Linked DNA regions of Homo sapiens: region 2 is linked to region 1. Evidence: fine-mapped expression QTL. A gene starts in region 1. The other region holds a variant in brackets. All regions are shown on one strand. Distances are from middle to middle.

Evidence for each region. PIP is the estimated chance that this variant, and not a neighbour inherited with it, causes the effect.
Region 2: its variant is fine-mapped to the expression of RET in whole blood (TOPMed, PIP above 0.99).

Annotation. Positions count from the first base shown.
Region 1 is chr10:43,070,095-43,084,779 of GRCh38, forward strand. It overlaps RET (ret proto-oncogene), which reads left to right and starts at 6,975. Exons shown (of 20, transcript NM_020975.6): 1 at 6,975-7,237. The coding sequence starts at 7,165. RefSeq lists enhancers at 2,820-3,577, 3,286-3,577, 3,788-3,949, 6,032-6,298, 6,164-7,021 and 2 more and promoters at 6,514-7,197, 6,899-7,197.
Region 2 is chr10:43,122,496-43,136,619 of GRCh38, forward strand. RET (ret proto-oncogene) reads left to right here. Exons shown (of 20, transcript NM_020975.6): 17 at 1,176-1,313; 18 at 2,388-2,487; 19 at 4,080-4,227; 20 at 5,617-7,856. The coding sequence ends at 5,774. Among named protein-coding and RNA genes, the nearest start is that of CSGALNACT2-DT, 8.8 kb to the right of the region's middle. RefSeq lists enhancers at 7,839-8,439, 8,440-9,040 and a silencer at 12,175-12,244. The variant T/A (reference allele first, on the strand shown) is at 4,425.

The DNA of each region.
Region 1 (14,685 bases):
TATCTTAAATTCAATAAAATTAAACATTCAGTTCCTCAGTCACACTAGCCACATTTTAAGTGCTCAGGCAGCACAAAGTTCAACATGGTCATCGTCGCAGAACCTTCCCCTGGACAGACAGAGCAAGCAGGGAGGGGCCTCTCTGGTTTGTATGAGGGGTCCAGGCATGGCGGGAAGCCCTGGGCAGGCCTCAGCTCAGGTAGCAGCACAGGGTAGTGCAGGGGCTGGAGGGGAAGTCCTGAGGGCTCTGCCTGCAACCAGCCCCAGGGCTTCCAAAGCAACAAAGGCCTGCGGGAGAGCCGGAAGGGGTACCAAGTGCCTGGGCCCAGTGCAGTACCTGAGCAAGTACCAAGTGCCTGGACCCTCTGTAGACACAGGGGCTGGAAACCACGCACGACCTGCACCCTGCACCCCACACCCAAGGGCAAGCAGGAGGGAGGAAAGGAAGGTGGCCGGCAGGCAGCTTACAGTTCCCTCCTGTCCCTGCAGCTCACAGCAGCTCCCGAGTGTGGAGCAAGGCAGGCTCCCCTGTGCACCCACAGGCCTGGAGGGCCCTGGCAGATACACACCTTGCCAGAGCCACAGCCACCTCCATCCTGGGCCCATGGCAGCCTGCAGACACCACTGGGGCATTCAGTCACTGGCTTCCTGTTTGTCAGCATCCCAAAGCACCACAGGGTTTTTTGGCTCCAAAAGACCTCCTGGGCCAAAGTGAGCCTCTGAAGGTCCTGCGGGCAGGACACCTCTCAGAGGACGGAGGGCGCACTGCAACTTCCAGGGAGGCCAGCCAGAGGCTGCTGAGAGGATGCTCTCCGGGAAGGGTGAATGCCTGCCTGTTCCTGCTGGGGCACTGCGGGGAAGCCAAGGTTGGCTGGCCTCCCACCACCTCCCGGTGTCTCCAGGGCAGCACTGTCCCCCAGCACCATCTTCTTTGCCCAAGGTCAGCTCCCGGGGCCGCCCAGGCCTGACAACCATCACCTACATCTCTTCTGCCTTGGACCCCTGCACACATGCCTTGAGTTTGGGAGACTGTCCCCTAGATGTACGGGGAATGGAGGGACTTGGTTTTCTCCACTGCAACGTCTCTGTTTCCAAAAATGGTGCCTGGAATATAGCAAGGGCCCAGGAGATATCTGTCAAATAAATAAGTGGGCTTTTCAAGAAGGACGAAGGGCAATTGTGCAGACTGGGGGAAAGAGAGATTCTCCTACCAGTGTTGGAGCAAAAAACAAATCCTCAGTGGTCATTTTGGGTTTGGCGACTGAAGAGGAGAAATGCTGAGAACACTGGGAGCAGGCGGGGGCACACTTCCTCCCTGGAACCCCGCTGAATGGCAGCTCATGGTGGCCTTGGATGCCAGGGTTCCTCCTTCGAAGTGGCTCCTCTGTGGCCCTTCTGTAGCCCCTCCAGCTCAGACCTGGTTGTAGTTGAGAAGCCCAAGGAGAAGTTGTAAATAGGTTTTGCAATGGCAATGGTGAGCTTAATTTTTCATTGACCTTACCTCCAGCTAATAACGAATCGGGGGGCGCTCTTTCACTCACAGAAGCAAAAAGGAAAAGAAAGGGCTTCCTAGTGACGAGATAATTTGTCAGAAAGTTATGAGTGGGCACGGCAGGGCTGTATAGGAAGTGTGTATTGAACAATACGACACACTGGCTTCTAATTGCTGCTGCCTTTCTGATCAATAATACATGTTTTCAAAAAGCCTTCTGCTTGCATTTACACAATGGACTGTAACTACTGCAAAGATCCATTAAGGCCTATTTTAAAAAGCGCATTCGTAAAAAGTTGTCTAAATCTGCATTACAAGGCAGATTATGAAACTGCCTTGGGAGATGTTTTGTCTAAAAAGCATTCAGCCTGTATCTGCTGGACAGCTGACTCGAGCTTCCACTCTCCACGTTGCTTGGAGCCAGGATGCCTTCTCCAGAGGATGCACCAAGCAAGGCACCGGCAGGCCTGAGGTCCTGTCCACAGACCAGCCGGCCTCTGAGCCCCTCGGGCTGGGGCTGCCTTATGTGAGCCAATCCCCCAGGAGCCTGGGTGGCCGCAGACATTAATCAACCCACCACTCCCGAATGTGTAATTCAAGGTCAGATAAGTGGTCCTCTGCGGCAAATAGGACTCTGGGGACCCAGGTCCCTCCAGCACTGAGAAGGCTTCTGGTTGCATGGGGAGGGCTCAAAGCCTGTGGCCAAGCCAGGATGCAGAAGACAGGTGTGTGCTCTAGCAAGCCAGTCTCGTTGACCACCAGCCCCACACAGCACACAGGTGCGTGCTGTCACCTGTGCAGGTGGGAAGCCCGGACTGTTTGGGTCCAGGGCCCCCTGGCTTTCTATGCCACCCTAGCACCATCCAGTGACTGCTTGGGCCTCATGGCCTCAGCTCCTACAGCTGACAGGACAGAGGCTGATGACAGCGGCAGCTCGTGCTGATGGCCAGCGTCCCTGGGCTAAGGACTCTGTGCAGACTGACTGTCTGCATCCCCGGGGAACTTGGGGAGAAGGAGCTCTGCCTTCCCACTGAGGCACGGAGACTCTGGGTAACCCGCCAAGGACATGGGGACAAGAGACAGAGCGCAGACACACTCAGAGCCCCCTGCAGCCTTCCCACCATGCTACTGCCCCAGGCCACACCTAGACAGCCCCCTGTAGGAGAGAAAACCCTGGCAGAGGGGCAGGAAACACTGCCACTGTCTGCTGAGCCCACTGATGCATCATTGGGCTTTACCCTCAAGGCAGTGCCCATGTTATTGCTCTCATGTCACAGAGGATGACACCGAGGCCCAGAGAGGACCACAGAAGCTGCTGAGTGGTGTGGCTAGCCTGGCTCTGGTGCTGAGCGAAAAGGATGGAGATTCCTCCAAGGGAAGGGGAGGAGAAGACGGGCAGAGGGGAAAGAAGAAAGGAGGGCGAGGGAAGGAAATTCACAAGAGAACAAAGTGTGGGGACATGGAAAACTGAAGTGGGCAAAGTGATAATGATAGGTTAGTGGGAGTAGGTGGGCAGGCTGGTGGGAGGAGGTGGGCTTTCTCTGAACCCCCCAGGGTCTCTGATGGATATGTAGGCCCCTGTTGCTTTTGTTCGGGCACCCGGCTCCTAATCAGGCCCCAGGGAGGATGCAAAAGGGGTCTTCTCCCAGGCCAGGTTGAGGGCTCTTCTGCAAACACCCCTGAGGGCACCTGAGGCCCACAGGCAGGCAGGACCTGCACAGTTAGGTAAAGCCTGTCCTGCACAGCCACACCCTGCAGGCCCAGGCCAGGTGTTCTGTGAGCATGCTCATGGAAGCAGCATATTTGGCATAGGGTGGGCTGGCTGAGCAGCCCCTCTGAGTGCCCTGAGAGCTAGCTGGTGGTCACTGGCTTCCTCCTCGCAGCTGCCCTGGAGGGCACCAACAGCAAGGCCAGGGAGGCAAACCGTGGGGAGCAGTAGACCTGCCCCTCACCTCAATAGCCCGATGGGGGAGCAGAGGGCAGTGGCAGACAGATGGGAAACTGAGGCACCGACCACTTTGCTAACAGTGCACACAGCCAGCCTCAGAGTCTGTGCTTCCAACCACCATGTCACACTGCCCATGGGAGGGACCTGGACCCCTGCCCACGCCCACTCTGAGAGGCCTCGGTCAGCAGTTCCAGGAATGCCACCCAGCCTTCCAGTATCACCAGGACCGAGCTGCGCTCTTGAATGTGTTTCCCCCTACCTGCAAGTCACGAGGCACCCCCAGAGCCAGAGTTTCCTGTCACTGCACTCAGCCTCACTCCAACCATGCTTCTCAGTGCAGGCAGAGACCCCCATGTCACCTGGGTCAGAGGACACAGAGCATCCCGCCCGCCTCCCGCCAGGCAAACCTGCACAGGCATGGCCCAGATCTCTGTCCATGATGGGTTTCCCTCCTCCCTCCCTTCCCTGTGCTGCGTTTTGGTGCTTTGGGGTCAGACCTGAGGTGCTCCAGGTAATCTTCACCTGCTCAGAAGCAATGAATGACCTCCAAGTTCTCACATGCTACAGGAAGATGGTGTGAGCCGCCTGCCCACTGAGCATCTTACCCTGCACTGGGGCAGAGCCTTGAAAATACCATCTCCTCACAGTCACCAGGGAAGGACACTGTTTCAGTCCCCATTTGAGAGATGACAAAACTGAAGCTGAGGAGTAATGTATGCAATGTCACACAACTATGAATGGCAAAATTCAAACTCAGGTCTAATCACTCCAAGCAGATGCCTGCACCAGAACCTCTTGGGGAATTTTTTTTTTTTTCTTAGAGATAGCGTCTCACTGTGCTGCCCAGGCTGGTCTCGAACTCCTGGCCTCAAGTGATCTTCTTGCCTTGGCCTCCCAAAGTACTGGGATTACAGGTGTGAGCCCTTAGCCTGGCCCCTGAACTTTTTTTTTAACATGGATTTTTAGGGAGTGGGGGACCCAGGATGTGTGTCTTCATAAAAGCTGCCCTGAAGATTCTCCAAGGGGACCTGCGGGCAGGGACAGGAAGCACTGACCACACTGTGATGTGCCCTCCTCCAGCTCCCAGAGAGCCCGCGACCCTCAGCAGGGCAGTGTGGCCAGGGTGCCCGAGCCCAGGCCCAGGAAGGCCCAATGGCTACAACTTATTAAGGGCTTCCTGTTTGTCGGGCACTGGGCTCTACCCTCACATGCACCCCTCTTTCTAGTTTCACCCCTTCTTCTGAAAGGGAGATGTTTATAGCTGGGGAAACTGAGGCTCAGAGAGATGACTAAGGGGAGTCAAGAAAGAGAGGCAGAGCCCCCTGCAGGCCCTCCCCACCCCATGGACTGAGAGAAGCCAGGGCCAGGACTCCTGGGCAGCCAAAGACCGGCACGTCTGCTTTGCACTTCACCTGGCCCCCACCTCCCCTTGTGAGACCTCAGGGGGTGGCCTCGCTTCCCCTCTGCTGGGCAAGGAGCTCCTTCCTGCTGCCTGATGTTCTGGATACTGAGCCTACACCCAGGCAGGGCTGAATCTCCTTTCCCCGCAGTCCCTGAGGCCAGCAGGCTCTGGGCCTCACAACTGTCCTCTGCTGAGCGACCCTTTGGTCAGATCCCTGGGCGTGCACGTAGCAGGGAGGTATGCATCTGTGTGCGTGTGTGTCCACGTATGGGAACACAGGTGTATGCATGTATGCATGTGTACAGGGTACACCCATGTGAGGGCCCCCCAGACCTTTTTCCAAGGAGTAAATGACACCCTCTCATAGTGTCAGGTGTTCACTCAGGACCCCCAAGGGTGAGGGTGGAGCGAGAGCGTGGAAAGGCCTAAGGTAGGCTAGGCAGGAGCACAGCCCCAGATGGCCCCTTAAGATGGCCACACAGAGCCCAGCCAGACATCAATGTCAGCCAAGGGCTGGCCAGGGTGGTCCCCGGGAGGTGCAGGGGTGGGGCTATTTAAGCCTACCCACTTCTCTCTTCATTCACCTAGGAGGCAATCACAGGAGCTTGTCTGTAGCCAAAAGATGCCCCCAGCCCCTCCCTACCTATCAGGTCCCTTCCCTGGGCACAGGCCTGAGTGTGTAGCCTAGGTAGCCACTGGCACCAGAGATGGAACCTGTCTGAACCCAAGGGAGCCCCTTGTGGCCAACTCTAGCTCCATAAACTGGAAGGGTGTGGCAGGCAGCCGGAGTCCAGTGGCCCACAGTGTCTCTCCTGGGCTGGCAGGCCTGTGCCCCGGCCACCTGCCCCTCAGCAAGCCAGGTCTGGACATCACGGTTGGCTGAGTGCAAGCCAGCCTCTGTCTTGGCAGCTCCCCCTCCTGCCTGTGAGGGTGACTTCACTTTGACTTCATATCTGCAGTGATGTGCAGATCACTTATTCAGCCCTGAGCTCAGCCAGGCAAGAGGGCGGGGTTCTGCACACAGCAAGCAAGGGAGCGGCTGGCTCAAGGGTGCCCTGGGCCCAGGTTCCCTGGCTTTTCCTCCTCAAGGGCCCATGGGCTTCCCTTCTTCCATCCCTCTGCGCCTAAGTGCAGGCCAGACCTCAAAAAGCAGCCGGGGATGGGGCGAGAACAGAGGACTTCCCCACTGAGCCCACATCCAACCTCACCCAGAACCCCTTCTCAGGTCCAGTTGCTGCTCCCTATTAGGGGTAAATGTGTTTATGCGCATCATTTCCATCATTTCTTTGGGGGAAAATTGGATTCTTTCCTCCTCCTCGCTACTCGCTCTCCGACTCTGCCAGCCCATCTCCTGAGAGTTCTCCTGTGTAAGGGATGCAAGGGCCACCAGCACCAGGTCTCTGAAAGGACGCCGGAGCCAGTTTCCGGTTTCCAAGGGTTGGACCAGTGCTGGAGGGGGGAATCACAAACTGCCCTTCCAGGACCCTACCCTCTCTACTACCCCAGGATGCTGAAAAAGGCTATTCTGCCTCTCTTCCCCTGCTCAGCTCTTCCCCGCCTCCTGCCTCCGGCCCCAGCAGAGGCCGCGCTCCCACTGCGCCTCTCGCCTCTGAGAAATGGCGCAGCAAGCGCTCCGCGGAGAGCCTGGAGGCGGGGCGCCCTTCTCTGAGTCCGCGGGGTCGCACCCCGAGCCAGTCGGCCAGACCTGCATCCCGCGTAGCATCCCTGCCCTCTCTGTGCAGCGGAAAGGGCAAAAGGCAGGGACTGCAAGCGGGCGCGCACCGGGTAGGAAGAGCGGCTCTGCGTAGGTGCGCGGACCCGGGCTCCTGGGTTCCATCCCCGCCGCGCACCTCGGGGTCCGCACCCGGCTCCTGCCGGGCCCTTTTCGGCCGCACCCCGCTCCCGCACCCCGCTCCTCCCCAAGCCCCACCCGGCCCAAGCCGCGCGTCCCGCACTGAGCTCCTACACGCGCCGCGCCCCGGCCGCACCCCGCGCAGCCAGAGCAAGCACTGGAGCCCCGCCCCTTCCCGCACCCCACCCGCCTCCGGCCCCGCCTGGCCCACCCCTGGACCGCCCCCGCCCCGCCCCGCCCCTACCCGCTCCTCCGGCGCAGCCGGCGCTTACCTCGCTTCAGTCCCGCGACCGAAGCAGGGCGCGCAGCAGCGCTGAGTGCCCCGGAACGTGCGTCGCGCCCCCAGTGTCCGTCGCGTCCGCCGCGCCCCGGGCGGGGATGGGGCGGCCAGACTGAGCGCCGCACCCGCCATCCAGACCCGCCGGCCCTAGCCGCAGTCCCTCCAGCCGTGGCCCCAGCGCGCACGGGCGATGGCGAAGGCGACGTCCGGTGCCGCGGGGCTGCGTCTGCTGTTGCTGCTGCTGCTGCCGCTGCTAGGCAAAGGTGAGTTCTGCCGGCCGCCGGCTCCCGCAGGGGCCAGGGCGAAGTTGGCGCCGAGCAGCGGAGCGGGCGCGTTCAGAAGCGCCTTTCTGTTTGCCGTGGGCAGCGGGCTGTGCGGTCGCCGGCCACCCGGCCTCGGCTGGGAGCGCAGTGGCTGCGGCGGGCGGCGGGCGAAGGGCAGGACGCCTCGGGCCGGGCGCCTCGGGCCGGGGCTGGGCGGGTCTCGGGCGGGAGCGGAGCGCGGGCCGGGCCGCGGGGGTCGGTGCTCAGAACCCTAGCCATAGCCGCAGGTCTCAATCTGGCCGCGCCCTGCGCCAAAGCCGCGTCCTGGAGCAAACGGGACAGCCGTTTCGGGGCCGACCTGGCGGACGGGTCAGGGAGCCCCGAAAGCCCGCGATTCGTGCGGAGAGTTCTGTTTCGGCAGGAGACGGCTCCGTCCTGGTTTCCTTTTCCCGCTCAGCGTCCGTGCGTTCCTCCCCCAGCTCTGCCGTCCTGGCCAGCCGAGGGATTCGGAGGCTCTTTTGAAAAGATTGCTTTTCCCTCGTGCGTTTTTGCCGCCCTGTCTTTAAACACCTAAAAACCGTGGTTTCTGGGGTGGCTCCCCCCGAGGGGCCGCCGTGATAGGCGTCCCACCCGGCAGCCCTGGAGTCGTGTGGCGCTGCCTGGCAGAGATGCTGAAGATGCGGCCATAGGAGGCCCAGGGCTTGGGGTGGGGCAGGGGTTTGCGCCGCCAGCCAGCGTTGGTGCTGGGCCTGGTGAAACCTCAGGTGCCTTAGGATCCCAGCATTAGGTGTGGCCTTGCAAAGATGGTCATCGACCCCACCCAAACTCTGGCAGAGTGAGCCGCAAGGCTGTGGAATCTTTGACCCCTTGGCACGCGTTTAAGTGTCCCTCAAACTGGCCCTGACTTGATCCCCTCCAAGCGCTTGTGTATGAACCAAGTTTCCCTCTAAGAGGGAAGGAGCCCTGGCCATCCTCCCTCACTCCTTACAAAGGGCTTTCTCTCCCCACAGCCTTTGGGAACAGAAGAAGCCATGGTCAGTCACCCTGTCTCTGGCCCCAGGCCCTGCACAAACTGAGTTTCCAGGCCTGCCTGAGACTTCATTTGTGTGACCTGCGCCTCAGCTCAGCATATGCTGAGGCCAGAGCGGGTCCCCAGTCCACCTAGCGAGGGACAGGGGAGAAGCCCTTGCCTTTCTATCTTTTCTGAGTGTTAGGACTTTGGGGTCCCAGTGCTGCAGGGGGAAGACACGGGGCAGAAGCAAACAAGGCGCTCTGACGCTGTCTTGGGATTCTGGGCTGTGGCTTTGGCTTTGAGGTTGTGGGCAGGGGGCCAGGTGTGAACTGCTGCTGGTGTGCTGGGCAGAGGACTTCCCCACACCCTTCCACAGCCTTGCGTTCAGTTGGGGTGGCCAGTGAGGCTGTGGGGGCCAGGCTCTGGGGGCCGGCTTGTGGCACTCAGCAGGCATGCAGGTAGCTTTCCGTGCCCAGACCCCTGGCCCACAGACAGCTTCCCGAATCCAGAGATGGTGAGCCCCTAGCCCCTGGGATAACCCGGACACCACAGTTGGAGGCACTGGGAGTGAAGAGGCAGCCCCACTCCCTGGAGTAGACAGCTGGGGCCTTTGAAGAGGCTGCAGAGCTCTTTCCCAGGAGCCACAGCTCCGGAGGTTCGAGCCGCACTCTTGGAGCTGCCAAGGACCGCCCCAGTGAGCCCCTCGGTGCTCCCCAACCACCCCAAGGGGACAGCTCGGCCTCAAGCGCCCTCTTGCGGACGCTGCACTTTAGTGGCTGGGCCTGATGACAGGCACAGACTGGGTCTCTAGAGGATGAGGGTTCTTCCACAGCTCACACATGCACACTCACACTGGATCACCAAGACACACTCCTGCCCCTTCTCACAGCACTTGCTGCCAAGGCTGTGGACATGCACAGCGTGGTTCCTTCACACCCTGCCTCACCCACGTCCACACAGGGACCCCAGCCCCTCTCATCACTCATACACACAGGGACGCCACGTGTGTATATAGGGACACACACTCCTCATACCTGCAGGGCATAGCCTGTCAGCCCCAGGTATGCTGGAACCAGAGTGAGAGAACCTCCATCTAAAAGTTACATTCATTTAAAAGTTGCTCTTAAAGGTTTCTGGCATTTCATTGCTCAACACAGATACAGCTGTCCCCGTTGCTTGGATGAGGAAACTGAGTCTCAGCTTCTGGGGTTCCCCCCAGGTCCCAGGCTGACCCTGCACCTCAACCTCCCACAGCTCCTCAGCAAGCCTCTTGTCTCTTGTCTTCCTGGCCTGACTTCTTGGGTCCTGTTTTGCAGCAAGGAAGGACATTCCCTCTCTGCCCCTGGGCCCCGGGGCCTTCTGTTCCCAGCATGGAAGAGCTGGGCACTGTGACTTGGCAGGGCCCGGATCCAAGCTGCCAGACCACCCTCTGCAGAGGGCCTAGGCAGCCCACCCCTGCCTGAAGCACCAGGTATCAGCGCGGGCAGCTCAGGCCAGGGGTACAGCTCCCCCTGCTTCATCCTTTTCCTTCTCCCCTTTCTCTGGCCAGAGGCTTCACCAGGTTCACCTGGGCCTGGCTTGCTTCCTCCTCCACTCCAGCTCACTAACCCTGTCTGGCCTCCAGAAGCTGCCTGCAGCCCTCACTGGTGGGCTGTGCCTGCTGGGGGCCTGCAAGCAGAGAGCAAATGGGGAAGTGCATTGAGCTGATTCACTAAATTGCCTTTCTTCTGCAGAATCACTTTAGGGACAGGCTGAGGAAATCACTGTTTCCTTGGTGGTGTGAAGAAAATGGGATGCGATCACCTAGCGGGGAGCTAATAGCCTTTTAGCCAGTGGAGGAGAAAACCAATTAAAAATTATGATATCTGTTAAAATGGAACCTGGGGTGCCAAGGGGAAGGGAAGGCCCGGAAGCTGCCATCTCCCCTGAGACCTTCCCCCTCTGCAGCCTGGCCGAAGACCCTCTAGGTCCCCTCGTCTTAACTGGATAAGGCTAATACCAGCAGTAGCACCCCATGGGGGCTCACAGTGCACTGCCCCTGTGCTGTGCCTACTCACTTCATCTTTTCCAACAAGTCTGCAAGGGTCATGGTCTTGGCCCATTTCACAGGTGAGGAAACAGGTTCTCATAGCCTATGGACTCGAACCGGTAGAGAGGATGCGGGAGCTCCCCAGCCCTGGCCCTCTGGCTTGCTCCAGCCCGTTCTCTGGGCCAGTGGTGTGGGTCCAGGGTGGGGCTAAGGAGGGCTTCCAGGGAGGTTGCCCTGAGCCTGCCCACCCACTGGTGAGTCCCCCCACCTCGGGCTCCAGGTGCCCTCAGGACATCCCAGCCCAGATCCCAGAGTAATGTGTGGCACCATGCACAGACGCTGAGATACTCTCTGGGTCTCGTCAGCTTTAGTTGATGTCTGGGAGTCCTATGGGTCTGGGGAGGAGCACCAGGCATGGCTGTGCCAGCAGAAGGGCCGACTGTGTGTGCTCTGTGGATGGCAGGAAGGCATCTTGCTGCCAGTGGCGGTGCAGATGTTCGGCTGGGACACCAGGCTGTGGCCCTTGCAGCCAACATATGCCTGAGGCCCTGGCATCGGATGGAAGCTACTGCTCTGAAGACAAGGGTGCAGGGATGGGGTTTGGGCATCAGGGATGGGGGTACAGCTGTGTTTCCTCATGCAGGACAGGGCCTTCCTCCTCATTTTTCCCATCCTCCAGGACAGCCTGGGAGAAGAAAGCCAGGGAATAGGGGCAAAGCAGGGTGCAGCCCCCCATGCTCCCTGCTGCCCTCCTCCCCTCCTGCAGAGGCACTTCCTTTCCACTTCAGGAGCCCCTCCCCCAGAAGTGGGCCCCCCCCATCCCCCCTTCCTTCTTTGGAGGCTGCTTCCTGGTGCCAGGTTATGCTCCCTCCCCGTTCTCTGCTGTGCCCTCTATCTCCCCACTCCTCTGCAATTATTTTTCAGCAGAGTGACTTAATAGTAACAATAACAGTAACAATAATAGTAACAACAGCAGGCTGGGAGCACTCCTGAGGGAGCCTCGGCTCCTGCCCTGCTGCTCTAGGGCTGGGGACTCTCCAGAGCTGTCTCATGGCAGGGAGAGACCGTAGTCAAGGAGACCCTGTGTAGGGACTTCCGCATGCGTGTGTGGCAAGGGGCGGGGACTGGGCAGTGACCACCAGGCAGGGAGCACACCTCAGTCATGGTCACAGAGAAGGTGATGATGGCACCAGGGCTGTCTCTCCGTGCCCGTCTGCACCTGGGCCTGCCAGAGCCGTCTTCTGTGCCCCATGGGGTAGGGGAGCACCCCATGGCCCCTGGGAGGCTGCCAGTCAGTGGGACTATGAGGTCAAATGGGGAGGTCCCTTGGGGTCCATGACCCAGGCACTGCACCCCTTGGGGCTGGAAGGGGAGAAGGCCCCAGGCCCACCAGAGCCCCTCTGGCTCCCCCACTAGAACAGCAGCCAGGGCCGGCTCAGGGATTGAGGCGAAGCCTTGGTGCTTGATTCTTTGTCCCCTGAGGCAGGCTGTACCTCTCATAGGAGAACTTTGGAGGACGGGCCTTCTCCTGACCAAGGCTCTGGGACACTTGGCAGCCCCTGAGGTCCTGCTTTACCTCTCTGCTTTCTCCCCCCTTCTCTGAGCTCTGGGGCCAGGCCTGGGCACTTGGATTGGCGCTGAGACAATGAGGCCTGAACCTCCATGGAGCTCTGGTCCCGCAGCTGTGTGATCATGGGGGCCTCAGGGACCCCGCTCCCCTCCATTCCCCAAGCCTAGAGGCCATGAAGCCTGTGGGTCCCTGAACTGTCCACCCTGAGACTGCAGGCAGGGCAGGGCTGGGCAAGAGCAGGCAGCAAGCTGTCCTTGTTCCCACAGCTCCTCCTGGCTGGGCTCTTGGCCCCTGAAAAGCCTGGGGCAGGGAGATGGTGCCAGCAGGACCTTAAGGACAGCAGTTCAGGTCGCACCTGGCCCTGGAGGGAGCAGGTGGCCAGCTCCAAGCAAACACCTCTGTTTGCTTTTGCCTCAAGGAGTGGCTCCACAAAGTGTAGCAGCCCAGGCACCACCACAGAAAGGTCACCGCTGCACCTGGACAGGTGTGCGCCTACCTGGTGGACCAGCGGGCATAGGCTTTCCTCCCTGATATCAGGGATACCTGGAGGGCCTGGTGCTGGGGCTCTGTGCTCAGGGGAGAACCTGTGGCCCTACAGCCCCAGGTTCTAGACCCCCTCCCAGATTCGGGTGCTGCAGCTGCGCTTCCACTCCTGGCCCTTGCTCCTCTGTGCTGCTGCTCTCCATGCCCTGCAGGAGCCAGGGTTCCAAGGAAGCACCTGAGGGGCAGTGTGGCCCCAGGGCAGGAGCAGGACAGTGGCCACCAAGCTGTTTCCAGTTCCCTTGTGTGCCTGTGACTCCAGAGGATTCTCGCCCTTGTGTTCCTGAGAGGGAAAAAGGAAACATGTATTTCCTAGAATTTAAGTAATGACTGGGGAGATGTGTGCTCTGGGTGCCGGGACGAGGGTGGGTGAGCTGGAGGTGCAGCATGAGCTGGTGCAGTTCTGGAGGGAGGGAGAGGGCTCATTGGGTTTCTTCCTCATACTACTTGGCAGTGCAACTGGCACAGACCCGGCAGCTGTTGCTGGGCTAGGGGCCAGGGGCTTCCTCTTGCTCTGTTCCCCTTCCTGCTCCACCACCATTGCCTGTAGGGCGTCTGCCAGCCCCAGGAAGCCTAACACTTAGCCCAAGTGGGGCTCTGGGCCTGGCCCTCCTCACCCAGGGAAACAACGGGGCTCATGGGCGCTTGGTGACATGGGCACATTGCTCTGCCATCGTAAGGGGCCAGCCTGGCTATGGGACCCAGCACCGGTGGGCAGCCCACAGGTTGTCTCTGCAGGAGACTCCTCTGGCAGGTCACATACAGGATGCCCCACAGCACCTTGAAAACTCGTGACCCGGGAAAGCCTCAAATTGTCTTTGCTCCCCTAGCCTCCCCACCACCTGTATATGCAGGGGCATGTGAGACTGTACTTGGTGACAGGAATGCCCCCCAGTCTCAGGGGCTTAACGCCATCTACTATGTCCTTCTTGTGGCATAGCCTGGCATGGCCCTTACCCACTGGGTGGCCACACCTCCCAGCCCTTGTGCCTGGCTATGTGCACAGGAGGGCACAGAGCTTCAAGAAGCCTGAGGCTTAAGGAGCTTTGAGGCCTGGGAGGGGGCCACCGTCACTTTCCCTGTGTTCCGTGGGATCCTGTCACATGGTCGTTCTCACCCCAGGAGGCTTCAAGTACAGAGGACGCGGGGATGGGGGCACGCAGGGGTGTACCTGCACACACTTCTGCCTACCAGCTCTCCATCCCTTGTCCTGGTCCACATAGCAGGGGCTCCTGGCGGGCCCAGCAGCTGAGGGGGACAGAGGGGGAAACAGGGTAGCAAATAATTATGGTTTACTCTTTTTTAATTGTGAAATTTGTGTAACATAAGTTTAACCATTTATAAGTGAACCATTTGGTGGCATTTAGCACATTTACAGCATTGAACAGGCATTGCCTTAGTTCCAAAAAATTTGCATCACCCCAAAAGGAAACCCCATACCCATTAAACAGCTGCTTCCTGTCCCCGGGCAACCCCCAGCCTGCGTTCTGTCTCTGCGGCTTGGCCTGTCCTGGAACATTTCATCTGCATGGACTGTTGTCTGGCTTCACTCAGCATAAGGTCTTCAGGGTTCCTCTAGGCTGTGGCACACATCAGCCCCTTCCTGTGAGGGGTAAATAGTGTGCCGTCACCCATTCATCTGGGGATGGACACGTGGGTGCTTTCCACCTTTTGGCAGTTATGAAAAATGCTGCCAGGGACATTCCTGTTATAAATACCTGAGTTCGTGCTTTCAGTTCTTTTGGGTACATACCTGGACATGAAATCGCTAGGTAATTCTGTTTTATATTTTGTGGAGCCGCCAAACTGTTTTCCACAGTGGTTGAATTGTGTTACATTCCCAAGGGTTACAATCTATCCACATTCTCACCACCACGCATTATTCTCTGTTATTCTCTGGTTCATGTCTCACTCTGGCCGTGCAGCCAGTGCACAGTGCTAGCTCGTTGTGGCTTTGGTTTGCCTTTCCCCGGTGATGGCGTGCTGGGCATCTTTTCCTGTGCATGCTGGCCAGTTGCATGTCTCTTTGGAGAAGCATCTCTTCGAGCCCTCTGCCTGTTGTCTAACTAGATGGCTGTCTTGCCATACAGCTGACTTTGCTGTTGCATCTGCATCAAGAGCTGCAGAGAAGCAGCTTTATCCAGGGCCGTCACTGTCAGTGATTGAGCCCCAGGTCCCTTGTGAGGAGAGTGTGGATTCGTCTGATTCCTCACATGGGCATTGAATCACCACTGCCCTCGAGGACCTTGAGGACATTCTCGGAAGACCTGGACTCTGAGGCCACGTTGAGCACCAAC
Region 2 (14,124 bases), 52 kb after region 1:
GGAAGCCAAAATCTCATTCTTCCAGGTCCAATGACAAGAGCTGATCACTTTTAAAACACAGGATTCTTGCCTCTAAAGTGTTCTACAGTCAGCAGAGGTGTGATGTGCCTCTCTTTTTTTGTGGGGGGAGGGGATAGGGTCTCACTCTGTCACCCAGGTTGGAGTGCAGTGGCGCAATCCTGGCTCACTGCAACCTCCACCTCCTGGGTTCAAGCGATTCCTGTGCCTCAGCCTCCTGAGTAGCTGGGATTACAGGCACGTGCTACTTCGCCTGGCTCATTTTTTTGTATTTTTTGGTAGGGACAGGGTTTCACCATGTTGGTCACACTGGTCTTGAATCCTGACCTCAAATGATCCACCCACCTCAGCCTCCCAAAGTGCTGGGATTACAGGCGAGAGCCACCACGCCTGGCCAACATGTGCATCTTAAATACTGTGGGCTGTGAATAAGCAATTGGACAACAGCTTTCCGATTATATAAGCTGACTGTAGGCTAGTTGGAAAAGGCAGAGAAAAGCATAAAGAAGAGACTGAATGTCATTGGACCACACCGCCCAGTGACCTCTGGCTGCCCTCTGGTGTGCTCCGTGGTGTGCACATGTATGCTTTTTATTGCCCTAAATGGGCTCATGCGATGCTGTTTTGTGATATGATTTTGTTCCCATTGCAAAGCGAGTTTTCCTTCACAGTTAAAATGTTTTTCTATAGCTTTTTTTCCTTCTAAGATTTTATGAAATTTTCCAAGCACATAGAAATGGCAAAAGAACTATACAAGGCACTCTGAGTCTGGTGGCCTGCATTCTCACCGCTTTAAGTGTGAGAATCTTAAGAATTATTAAGATTAATTCATGATATTAATTAATGTATCATTAATTCATTAATCATGAATTCATCTTAAGCCTCATGTGTCCCTTGTGCGTGTGGCTGCTCTGATGGGAGTGGCTTGGGCAAGGACTTCAGCTTCATGGAGTAGGGGCCAGGCAGGCAGGCAGCCCTTCCCCACCTTCATGCTACATCCATCTGAGCAGCCAGACCCAGGCTGACATCTGTGAGCATCTGTGCTTGAAGCCGACAGGGTCAGCAGGTGCTTGGTGGTGGGGGTGGATATCTGGGCCCCCCGGAGGGCTCTGTGAGGGCCAGGTGGAGCCACTCACTGGTCCTTTCACTCTCTGCAGATGGTCTTTTGGTGTCCTGCTGTGGGAGATCGTGACCCTAGGGGGAAACCCCTATCCTGGGATTCCTCCTGAGCGGCTCTTCAACCTTCTGAAGACCGGCCACCGGATGGAGAGGCCAGACAACTGCAGCGAGGAGATGTGAGCGGGGACTGGCTTTGGCCCAGCCTCACTTGGGAAGGGAGGGGACATCTGTGTGCATTCCCTCCCCATCCAGAGCAGCCCCAGGAGAAACCAGGAGAAGTGGGGGGTGGGGAGTGGGCAGGGCAGAGGTTAGAGAGCCATCCTTGGGTGTGGCAGTAGATGCTGGGGGTCCTACCCCACTGAGGGCTGGTGGGCTTCCTAGGGGGTCTTATAAAAATGAGTGAGAGCAGAGACTGGTGCAATGCAAGCTCAAGGGCTGAGAGCTGTCCCAGCAGGACACTTAGGGAGGAGAAGGTAATTCCAGATGGCCCAGGGGGCACGTGTTAAGGGGTGCCTGAGTGGAGGTGCAGAGCCAGGCAGGGGCAGCCTGGGCTGCAACCTGAGAGGTTGAAACCTTTACACTCTCAGGGGAGATGGTCTTAGAAACCAGGCTGAGAACAGATGAGAAAGGGCTGCCCAGAGGCAGAGATGCATGGTACATGCATTCCACAGAGTGTGCACACTGCTGGGGCGTGGAGGGGGCATGCTGGGCCGAGAAGCCAGGTACCACCTCCCTGGGCCCCCAGCTGGTGGCCAGCTGGAGCGCTGTGGTCTGCCTGGGCACCCAGGCAAGCAAGGACGGTGCAGGACAGACGTGTGATTGCCAAAGGTTCTTGTTTGTCTGTCTCCACACCTAAAAGCCCTCAATCAATTCATTCTTCTTGAGAGTTTTAAGGACTGGCACTTCTCACTTAGCTGCCAGAGCAAGCATAGTATCCAGTGAGCTGTTTACCAGTGTCTTTGCAAGGGAAGTAAAAATGAATCTCCCTTGGAGGGAAGGGAAGCTTGTAGGATTCTGGACCACAGCTCTGAGAGACCTGAGCACAGTGGCCCACGGGCTGGGATCCTGCAACAGGCCATGCCCCAGTCCCACGAGGCTCAGAGATGTCAGCGATGCAGAAATAGCTTTGGAGTTGGAGACAGAGCACACTGGGCCCAGGGTACAGGGCAGGGTGCGATGGCTGTGGTGGGCTGTCCTTCTGAGACCTGGCCCTGCTTGGATCATATTGGCCTGTCTGCTCTTCCCACCAGGTACCGCCTGATGCTGCAATGCTGGAAGCAGGAGCCGGACAAAAGGCCGGTGTTTGCGGACATCAGCAAAGACCTGGAGAAGATGATGGTTAAGAGGAGAGTGAGTGCCTGGGTCCAATTCCCACAAGCTGAAAGTGGCTTGGGGAGACTCCAGCCTCACCCCAGGGCAGTAGTTTTAGCCCTCAGAGTTCCCAGTGTGGGGCCACAGTGGGATTGTGCAGAGAGAGAGAGTCATGCTCTCCCCTGCATGCAGACAGCAGATTGAACCCTTCTCAGGCCAGGCCGCTTGGGCTTCTTTTCAAGTCATGAAGAAACCAAGATTCTTGACATTTAGGAAAAGCTCTCTACAGACAGGCATGGGAGGAAAATATTCCAAAGCCAAAAAGAAATAGTTTTCCATAATGGAAAATGAGAAAGTTGAGTTAAAGCAAGTGCCCAAAATTCAGATGCCCAGAGGGGGGTCCGGCTGGAGGAGGGCAGTGAGTAAGGAGCAGTGGAGACTGTGGCAAACAGCCAGCCCCCTCCAAAGGGTTCCTTGCTGGAGTACCTGTGGCCTGCAGAAAAAGGAGCCAGGAATGGGCTGGGTCTTCTGAATTTTATGAGGTTTATGTTGTCTCCCAGTTTTTATTGTTAACAATTCATTTAAATTTCCCAGAGCCGAACGCAGGCCAAACAAAGCATATCGGGGGGTGGCCAGAGTCAGCCTGTGTGCCTGGAAGTACAGTTTGTGAGGTCTACACATTTTCAACCAATATTCATCAGGCAGCTGCTAGGACCCATACTATGTCTCAGAGGCTGGGAATGCAGATAAACAAGACCAGCACAGCCCTGCCCTCACGGGGTTTACACACAGGCCTTGTCTTAACATTGGCACATTTACTGAGTTGTCACTTCTTCCGACTTGGATAGCGGGATGCAGGACCTAGGACCCCATAGGAAAACTTCACATCACTGTCTCGCTTGGATGAAAACTTCAAGTCCTGAGAATGCAGCGTTGTTCAAAACAGAAGCGATCACTGGTGCTGGCCTTCCTAGAACAGTGCTGAGAAACAGCCGGGAAAACGCTGGGCCCCTCTGTGCACATTCAAGCTGGGCATTGAAAGGAGCAGACGCCAGTGGCCCCTCGTGCTGGGGAGCCCGTGCCTGTAGCAGGGTCCTGTGCACCCTGACAGCGCTGTCAGATTTCAGAACTCAGCCCTGACGTGACGTTCTAGATGGCAGGGGTCCTTGGGGAAAGCTGGAAAACATCCTGCAGGCTGGGGCTGCGTCCTGGCATGTGGCTGCAGTGGGCTCCCCCAGAGCCCAAGGGTTTGTCAGCGGGCTGGTTCCGTGCTGCCCATCTCCGGGTTGGGCCAGGGGCAGCTAGATGAGGCGTCCCCCAAGGCTGCCCTCCAGGCCCTGGAGATAAGACGCTGAGGGAGCACATTTCTTTCCCCAGGGAGGTGACTTTCCAGGGGAAGAGACAGAATAGACAACACCCAGGGGAGTGATGGGGACCTCAGAGCAGGACCAGGCCAGCCAGGAGTCCTGGGAGCTCTATGCAGCCTGGCCCTGGTCTCTTGGAGAGGTCAGGAGATTGGTGCGAGGTGGAGACACAGCCAGAGCCTCTGCCCTGAGGATGGCTTGTTGTATACTGAGTTGTATCTAGTTGTGGCACATGGCTTGGAGTGACCGGCCATCTCTGTCTTCCAGGACTACTTGGACCTTGCGGCGTCCACTCCATCTGACTCCCTGATTTATGACGACGGCCTCTCAGAGGAGGAGACACCGCTGGTGGACTGTAATAATGCCCCCCTCCCTCGAGCCCTCCCTTCCACATGGATTGAAAACAAACTCTATGGTAGAATTTCCCATGCATTTACTAGATTCTAGCACCGCTGTCCCCTTTGCACTATCCTTCCTCTCTGTGATGCTTTTTAAAAATGTTTCTGGTCTGAACAAAACCAAAGTCTGCTCTGAACCTTTTTATTTGTAAATGTCTGACTTTGCATCCAGTTTACATTTAGGCATTATTGCAACTATGTTTTTCTAAAAGGA[T/A]GTGAAAATAAGTGTAATTACCACATTGCCCAGCAACTTAGGATGGTAGAGGAAAAAACAGATCAGGGCGGAACTCTCAGGGGAGACCAAGAACAGGTTGAATAAGGCGCTTCTGGGGTGGGAATCAAGTCATAGTACTTCTACTTTAACTAAGTGGATAAATATACAAATCTGGGGAGGTATTCAGTTGAGAAAGGAGCCACCAGCACCACTCAGCCTGCACTGGGAGCACAGCCAGGTTCCCCCAGACCCCTCCTGGGCAGGCAGGTGCCTCTCAGAGGCCACCCGGCACTGGCGAGCAGCCACTGGCCAAGCCTCAGCCCCAGTCCCAGCCACATGTCCTCCATCAGGGGTAGCGAGGTTGCAGGAGCTGGCTGGCCCTGGGAGGACGCACCCCCACTGCTGTTTTCACATCCTTTCCCTTACCCACCTTCAGGACGGTTGTCACTTATGAAGTCAGTGCTAAAGCTGGAGCAGTTGCTTTTTGAAAGAACATGGTCTGTGGTGCTGTGGTCTTACAATGGACAGTAAATATGGTTCTTGCCAAAACTCCTTCTTTTGTCTTTGATTAAATACTAGAAATTTTTTCTGTTTCCTAACTTCATCATTGATTGTTTGAAATCTTGGAGTTTCAAGCATTTTTTTCAAGCTGAGACGGTTCCTTTTGCATGCCTCCTGACTCACTGACTCCTCACTGGCTTTGTGTCTAGTGCCACACTCCATTTGTGCTGACGATGCTATGAGGCTGGCCCGTGTGCACCCTCGATTTGGAAGGTCCTCTTCTCCGTTGTAGGCTCAGACAACAGACGAGTGCCTCCTTTACGTTAGAGAATGTTTTATAGAACGTTTCCGCTGCAGTAAGCCATTGAGTGCAGCAGTGTGCTGTTGCCCTACACTGCCTTAGAAAAAGAGTTAAGCAGTTCGACAAATATACATCAGATTAGAGAGTCTCAAGTTCATAAAAGTCAAAATTGGTAGTGTCTGTTAAGTTACATTTACCAAGAGAGCACATGATATTTCCCCTAACTATAACAGTGTTTTTGGAAACCTGGAACACAAAACCATTAATATAATTGGCACAGAAACCACGAGTTTGGTTTGAACATCAAAGGGAGTTTTGCCAAGGCCTTACTGTCTGCACTTGAAGTTTTGGTTCTTCAGTGCAGAACAAATGATCTGTTTTCATTTTTAGGCATGTCAGACCCGAACTGGCCTGGAGAGAGTCCTGTACCACTCACGAGAGCTGATGGCACTAACACTGGGTTTCCAAGATATCCAAATGATAGTGTATATGCTAACTGGATGCTTTCACCCTCAGCGGCAAAATTAATGGACACGTTTGATAGTTAACATTTCTTTGTGAAAGGTAATGGACTCACAAGGGGAAGAAACATGCTGAGAATGGAAAGTCTACCGGCCCTTTCTTTGTGAACGTCACATTGGCCGAGCCGTGTTCAGTTCCCAGGTGGCAGACTCGTTTTTGGTAGTTTGTTTTAACTTCCAAGGTGGTTTTACTTCTGATAGCCGGTGATTTTCCCTCCTAGCAGACATGCCACACCGGGTAAGAGCTCTGAGTCTTAGTGGTTAAGCATTCCTTTCTCTTCAGTGCCCAGCAGCACCCAGTGTTGGTCTGTGTCCATCAGTGACCACCAACATTCTGTGTTCACATGTGTGGGTCCAACACTTACTACCTGGTGTATGAAATTGGACCTGAACTGTTGGATTTTTCTAGTTGCCGCCAAACAAGGCAAAAAAATTTAAACATGAAGCACACACACAAAAAAGGCAGTAGGAAAAATGCTGGCCCTGATGACCTGTCCTTATTCAGAATGAGAGACTGCGGGGGGGGCCTGGGGGTAGTGTCAATGCCCCTCCAGGGCTGGAGGGGAAGAGGGGCCCCGAGGATGGGCCTGGGCTCAGCATTCGAGATCTTGAGAATGATTTTTTTTAAATCATGCAACCTTTCCTTAGGAAGACATTTGGTTTTCATCATGATTAAGATGATTCCTAGATTTAGCACAATGGAGAGATTCCATGCCATCTTTACTATGTGGATGGTGGTATCAGGGAAGAGGGCTCACAAGACACATTTGTCCCCCGGGCCCACCACATCATCCTCACGTGTTCGGTACTGAGCAGCCACTACCCCTGATGAGAACAGTATGAAGAAAGGGGGCTGTTGGAGTCCCAGAATTGCTGACAGCAGAGGCTTTGCTGCTGTGAATCCCACCTGCCACCAGCCTGCAGCACACCCCACAGCCAAGTAGAGGCGAAAGCAGTGGCTCATCCTACCTGTTAGGAGCAGGTAGGGCTTGTACTCACTTTAATTTGAATCTTATCAACTTACTCATAAAGGGACAGGCTAGCTAGCTGTGTTAGAAGTAGCAATGACAATGACCAAGGACTGCTACACCTCTGATTACAATTCTGATGTGAAAAAGATGGTGTTTGGCTCTTATAGAGCCTGTGTGAAAGGCCCATGGATCAGCTCTTCCTGTGTTTGTAATTTAATGCTGCTACAAGATGTTTCTGTTTCTTAGATTCTGACCATGACTCATAAGCTTCTTGTCATTCTTCATTGCTTGTTTGTGGTCACAGATGCACAACACTCCTCCAGTCTTGTGGGGGCAGCTTTTGGGAAGTCTCAGCAGCTCTTCTGGCTGTGTTGTCAGCACTGTAACTTCGCAGAAAAGAGTCGGATTACCAAAACACTGCCTGCTCTTCAGACTTAAAGCACTGATAGGACTTAAAATAGTCTCATTCAAATACTGTATTTTATATAGGCATTTCACAAAAACAGCAAAATTGTGGCATTTTGTGAGGCCAAGGCTTGGATGCGTGTGTAATAGAGCCTTGTGGTGTGTGCGCACACACCCAGAGGGAGAGTTTGAAAAATGCTTATTGGACACGTAACCTGGCTCTAATTTGGGCTGTTTTTCAGATACACTGTGATAAGTTCTTTTACAAATATCTATAGACATGGTAAACTTTTGGTTTTCAGATATGCTTAATGATAGTCTTACTAAATGCAGAAATAAGAATAAACTTTCTCAAATTATTAAAAATGCCTACACAGTAAGTGTGAATTGCTGCAACAGGTTTGTTCTCAGGAGGGTAAGAACTCCAGGTCTAAACAGCTGACCCAGTGATGGGGAATTTATCCTTGACCAATTTATCCTTGACCAATAACCTAATTGTCTATTCCTGAGTTATAAAAGTCCCCATCCTTATTAGCTCTACTGGAATTTTCATACACGTAAATGCAGAAGTTACTAAGTATTAAGTATTACTGAGTATTAAGTAGTAATCTGTCAGTTATTAAAATTTGTAAAATCTATTTATGAAAGGTCATTAAACCAGATCATGTTCCTTTTTTTGTAATCAAGGTGACTAAGAAAATCAGTTGTGTAAATAAAATCATGTATCATAAAATGTGTAAACTTTTTTTCTTTTTAACATTCTAGTTGGAAACAACAGATTTCTGATTTTGTAGTTTCCATACAATATTTAAAACATCACAAAGAATTCTATCATGATAACCACTGAGGCATCAATAGTGGTCGAGGACTAGGGGCTCTGGAGATATCGCTGGCTTATCTGGTACATTTGCGTGTGAATAGGCACATTGATAGAAACTGAAAAACTCAGCTAACTCCACTGTTCAAGGAATCCCTTCCTTAAAAGTGTCCATCCCTAGAACAAAGCAGCAGCCAGTGTCAAGTTTAGGTCTTCACAGTTCTCTAGCAATTTGCTTGTTGCTGATCTTTTGAAGTTGGCCTTAGAGCTGTGGGAGACAGAATACAAAATGCCAAGTCCTGAGGAAGGCCATTAGAAGTGTGAGGGAAAATGCTGTCCTGAACCACCATGAAGCCTGACATACTCACTACTTCTGTTTATGTCTTCCCCGAGGAATTCTCTGAGCTTCTCATGCCGGGCGTGGAGCTGATGGGTCAGTGGGCAAACGGGAGTTGTTGTCAACATCAGTCTCATCTGCGATTGCATTGTGTCAGATGCCAACGGCCTGTGTCACACACATACACGTGTGTATACGTGGGCCTTTGCACGCCTCGCCAGGTGGTGTACATGCAGGCCTTGGCACGCCTCGCCCAGTGCCCGCCCCAGGCCCATGAGGCCCCGCTTCCCAGCCGTGGGTGTCTGTGTCTGCTCACGGCTTCCTCCTTCAGCCTGGACCACGGGCTGGAAGTGAACGTAATCTCCAGAGCCAGCTGTTTGCTGTAGCCTTTACCTCTGAAAGTAGAAATCTACGCCAAGAAAAGTTAATGCTAAAAGCCACCCCTAATGTAGACTCTACATTAGGACTATTTGTGTGTGTATGTTTGCTGTTTTATTTTCCCCTAAAAACACATTTTCTGCCAACCTTCACGAAGGATTTCTTCCCACCACGAGGCCAGCTTATGTGGGCAGAAATCTAGTTGAATGTGCCTGAGAACAGGGCTTGAACAAATACTTCATACACAAAAGAAATTTTGAAGGGAAAGCATAATTTCTAACATATAAAGAAAGCCTCTCCCGCAGGCAGGTGGAGCAGTTAGCGGTGCCTCTCTCTGCCTCGGGTGCGTTCACGCATAGTGTCTGGCACACCTTGTTTTATTGCTCTTTGCTTTATTGCGTTTTTCACAAATTGAAGTTTTGTGGCAACGCTGAGTCGTCGAGAAAGTCTATCAGGGCCATTCTTCCAACAGCCCACACTCACTTCATGTCTCTCTATCAGTACTGTTAAGCAGTAAAGAATCTTTAAACCAAGGTATGTACATTGTTTTTTAGACATAGTTCTGTCACACACTTAACAGACTCCAGTACAGTGTAAAGTGTAACTTTTATATGCACTGGGAAACCAAGAGACTTGTGTGGCTCACTTATTTGGGATCTTCAATCTTCTTTGCTTTACCGGAGTGGTCTGGAACAGTATCTCTGAGGTTCGCCTGTGTTTAGTGGTCCTCACAACTGGGGGGTGGTTCTAGGAAGTCCTAGGGAATCCTAACCTCTGTGGCCCTGAAAAAGCAGAAAGGTGGGTCTTCAGGGTGCATGCAGCAGTGTGCGTGGCCCCACACGTCTTCCACATGAAGATGCTCCAGGTGCAAGTCCTAGGCTTGTGCGCCTGCAGGGAAAGCACCCTCTCTGCCAGGGCTCCTGCTGTGGCCCTGTCCCTTCTCCATGGCAGCAGCCTTGACCGAAACTGTGTAGAGTCTCCCACCTCTTCAGGGAGCTGGGACTCAGGAAGGATCATCTTAGCTGAGGTCATAAGAACCTGCATGTAGAGAACTTTTCAGCGTGGGGCCACTACTGTGTCCTGCTGCTGAGGCCAGGTAGTGGCCGTCTGAGGGCTGCAAGGGCAGGCTGCTCCCAGGAGTTAAGGAGGCAAACACTCTGAACACCCTGGAGAAATCACAGTTTATCTTTGCAACTACAAATTTGAGTGCTGTGTCAAGTGACCAGGTATTTTTGCAGATGTCTCTGAGGTGTTAAATCACAGGACCTGGCCAAGCAAGATCTCTCAGCTGGACCCCGGGCAGGGGATCCTTTATGGGGGCACATCTCACTGTGGGGGCTGCAGAAATGTGAAGGTCATCATGGAGGGAGCTTGCGGTCTGAAACTACCCCAGCCACTGTGACTACCACACTGGGAGAGATCATAGACCTGCATCCTCTCAGATGACACTGAGCAGTTCAAGCTAAAAATGTGCTGGTAAGCAAGGTAAGTGAATTCTAAAGCTAAAAAAAATCATTTTTCATTTTCTGAGAAGGAAACAAGTTTGATATTTCATACACAGACAATATTTACCATGCAGACTGTCAATTTCTTGAATAAAAATATGAAATTCATTTAAAACATTCAAGTTTTTGTGTATTTTTCTCAATGTATTAACAGAAGAGCAACCTGTTTCTTGGCTGCTCGATTGTCTCACCTGCACATCAATCCTTTTCTATACTCTCCCATGGAAGAAGGGGTCTCCAGGGGCAAGAGACTTTGGTCAGAGGACTGCAGGGAGCCAGGCAGCACCCATGTCTTGGAGCCTCCCCTCTCCCTAGGGCGTGTGCCTTGCTCCATATTTTGTGCCTTTCTTCTGGGAGTTTTCAAGAGCTTGAGAATTTTCCTGGAGACTCTGGCCACAGGGCCTGAAGCTCTTAGATTGCTCAGAACCCCATGGTAAAGGAGCACACTGAGGGTTTGGGGGACTTCAGTGTCTGGGAAGAAAAGTAAGATCATAGCAAATGATTTCTAAAAATAAGAATGACACCAAGGATGGAAGAGCTGTAGTGTCTCACAAGACAGTCACTGGAAAAAGTAGAGGAAGTGTGGTTGGACACTATTTTTAAAGAGATATTCACACAATTACCTCTAATCTTTAACTTTGTAGAAATAAGCAAAGGCTACCCATATGAGAACCCACAGGAGCCACTGGTTCTGAACTTGCTATAGCAAGAGAGTCAGCCAGGATCACTTACTTTTGGCAGACACTCAAAAGCAGGCAGAGGAGTGGGAAAGCCTTATAGTAAAAAATAAAAGGTGGGGAGGGTGAGGAGAAGCCTTCAGGGATGCTGTGATTGGGGCTTGTTGGCCTGGGGAAGCTGGAGGCAGCTAACCAGGAGGAGGGCCTCTTATGTGATTGGTTTGGGGGACACAGGTGGCTTTCTCTGTTTAGTTCAGTGGGCAAAAAATAGGGAAGCTTGCAGTTCCTGACCAAGTCCTAACCATTCTGGGATAATTGTTACAGAGGCTGTGGTTTGGCTTCCTGGCTAGTTCTGCAGAGAATCTGATTCAAATCCTCTGGCCGTATGTGGTCTGGCCATTGTCTGTTTGCATGTTCAGTCTCTTAGTCCCCCTTGTCGGTCATTTTCTTGTTTGTAAAAGGTTGGCCAACTCAAGGAAGTCTAGAGATCCAGCTCTTCACTGCTCAGAGATTATTCAGTTGTCTCTCTGGTCAACCGTATTGTGAGATCTTGATCCTTCTGTTGTTATAGCATCACAGTGCTCATTTGACAAGAATGGGATGCAGTGGAACAACATCAGGACCACTATGACAGAAACAAGAGCAACTGTCCCTGTGAGACGCTTTGAACGCAAACCTCAGCTGACCAATGCAGGCCAAGAGCAAATCCCATATAGGCCATGAGGATCAACCTTAGAAAGCCAAATAGCTTTTGCCTCAAGGTGATGTGTGACCTGTTCTACCTTCTCTTGTTTCACTGATCCAGATGCAGTATTAGCAGTGGCAGAGGCCATCACCAACCAACAAGAAATCTACAGCAATGAGACTGTCCATCACTACTCATGCCAATGAGTTGAGACTGATAGGTGCCCCATCTAGGGAAGAAGGGGCATTGCTAATGACTTCTGCCAGGGTTAATGATAAGTTTATGACAACAGGATTCCCACAGATGAGAACATTGCTCTGATTGTTTGCATAAACAATGAGTCAGTAACTCCCCAGTTAGAGTGCTGAATAACCAAGGGTGATGTTACGGTTTTTGCAGTTTTACACCAACCGGTTTGTGGTAAATCGTTACAGCAACCCTAGGAAAACCAACGCACCATTTCTATGTATGGTTAATGCATGGCAGGTGTTTAAAGGTATTGCAGGATATTGGTGCTTTTCCTTTCCCCAGTGCACCTCATTGATCTCAAGTGAGGGATTTTTCTTTTTGTCTTGATTTTTGTTTTCTAAGTTGAACAATCTTTTTTTCTCAGTGTCCTTTCTGTATACAGTATCTATAAGTGCCCTTGTCAGTAGCTGACTGGTTGGGGAGGGGCTACCCAGCTGTTTGATCAGCAGGGCCACAAGTTAATTTTAGGTCCTGTCTTATTTTTGTTCTAAAGCACTTTTAAAATGTCTGCCAGGTGTTGTAGTTCAGGTTAAGGGGCTATTTCCCATTCTCATTTCTGTTTTTGATTAGGTCTCCGATTTCAGATTTAGCTCCTTGACAACAAGCAATGAAAGGGCCACTTTCTAGACTCCCAAATGATACAATGTATTTTCTAGCCTATCCCAAAAAAAACTCCTGCAGGTCCTTTTGTTTGTTTGTTTGTTTTTGCATGACAAGGGATTATGGTCTAATCTTTTTGGTGGGGGGAATGTTTGAGATATGGCTTTTAGAAGACTTTGCCCTATGTTTTGAGCCTCTTTGTTAACTCTTCAGTTTTATTGTGGACAGTGGGATCCTAGGATCCCTTTTGGGGGAGTCTAGTCAACTTTTGCCATTCAGGATTTAGCATGCAAGGTTCTGGTCAATGTGTACAAGTTGATATGGGTTAGGTAACACTGGGTCACATGCTTCCCCCCGCCGCTTTGCGATAGGGTCTTGCTCTGCCACCAAGGCTAGAGTGCCCGTGGTGCAATCATGGCTCACTGCAGCCTCAACCTCCTGGGCGCAAGTGATCCTCCCATCTAGCCTCTTGAGTAGCTAGGACTACAGGCACACACCACCATGCCTGGGTTTTTTTTTCCATAGAGATGGAGATCTCACTATGTTGCTCATGCTGGTCTAACTTGTAGGCTCAGGCAGTCCTCACTGATTCACCTTCCAAAATGATGGGATTACAGGTGTGAGCCATAGTGCCTGACCAAAGTATTCTTAATTATTTTATGCATAGTTGCTGATCTTGCCTGGGTTTGGGGAAATCCTTAATTATGGTTATTAATTTAGCTTGGGTCTAAGGTTTAAATTCCACAGTTGTCTGTATATGGGGCTCATGGAGGAATAGGCCTTCAGAGAGGCAGCTGGCATCCTGGGGTCATAGGAGGGTTGTTGTGAAAGGGCAGGGATCTGGACAAGAGGAAGAGAAGTGTGGACAGATGTGTGGAAGGGAAGAGATCAGAAGGATAAGGGGGAGAAGAGGGAGAGCTGTATTAGGGAAGCAAATGGATGATAAGCAGAAGGATTTACTAGGAAAATGAGTCTAGGTTGTTGCTGCTTAAGTTTGCCAAATCGCTCATCAGCTTTAGCCAGAGTCTTTCAGGGAAGCACTTTTTGAATCAGAATATCATTTGGAGACCTCTGACTACCAATCAAAAAAGGCTGCTCATTGGGCCTAAGAAATCTTATTCTCTTTCGTTTCTAAGGCATCTCTCAAATGAGCAATTTTGTTCAAGTTAGATGTTCTCCAAATAAGATCTTCACCAAATCAACCTTGGTGAAGTTAATGCTTTTCAGAGATGGGCGTAAGGATTAGAATTGTTAGAGAGTATATGTAAGAAGCAGGAGTTTTTTCTGGAGGAGGAGATTTAAACTTAGACAACACCATGAATGCTGGCTGGTGAGGCTGGCGAGAAATGGAATGTTTGTGTCTCTCAGGACATGAAAGCGAGACGGAAGGAGAACCTCATTCAGTTTTACTGGAAACCCACAGCAAAGTTTCTCCAAGTAGAGGCCGGTGTGATGAGAACTGCTAAATCATGAGCTGCGAGGCTGGCTCAAACAAGAGGCTTATGAGCCCCATGCCTGTGTCCTTTCCTACGGTTTTCCTTCTTATGACAAGCAGCACTTTTTGACAGCACAACACTAAACACTAACACAAAATACAGTGAAAAGGGATAAAAAGAATGGCCTGATTCCACTAGAGATGCCAGACAAATGAGAATCAATAACAAAACCAGAGTACCAAACTGAGAATAAATAGCCAGAGACCTCCACGCAGAGTGAGGTGAGCCCTAGTGCTGACCACATCGGCGCACCTGAT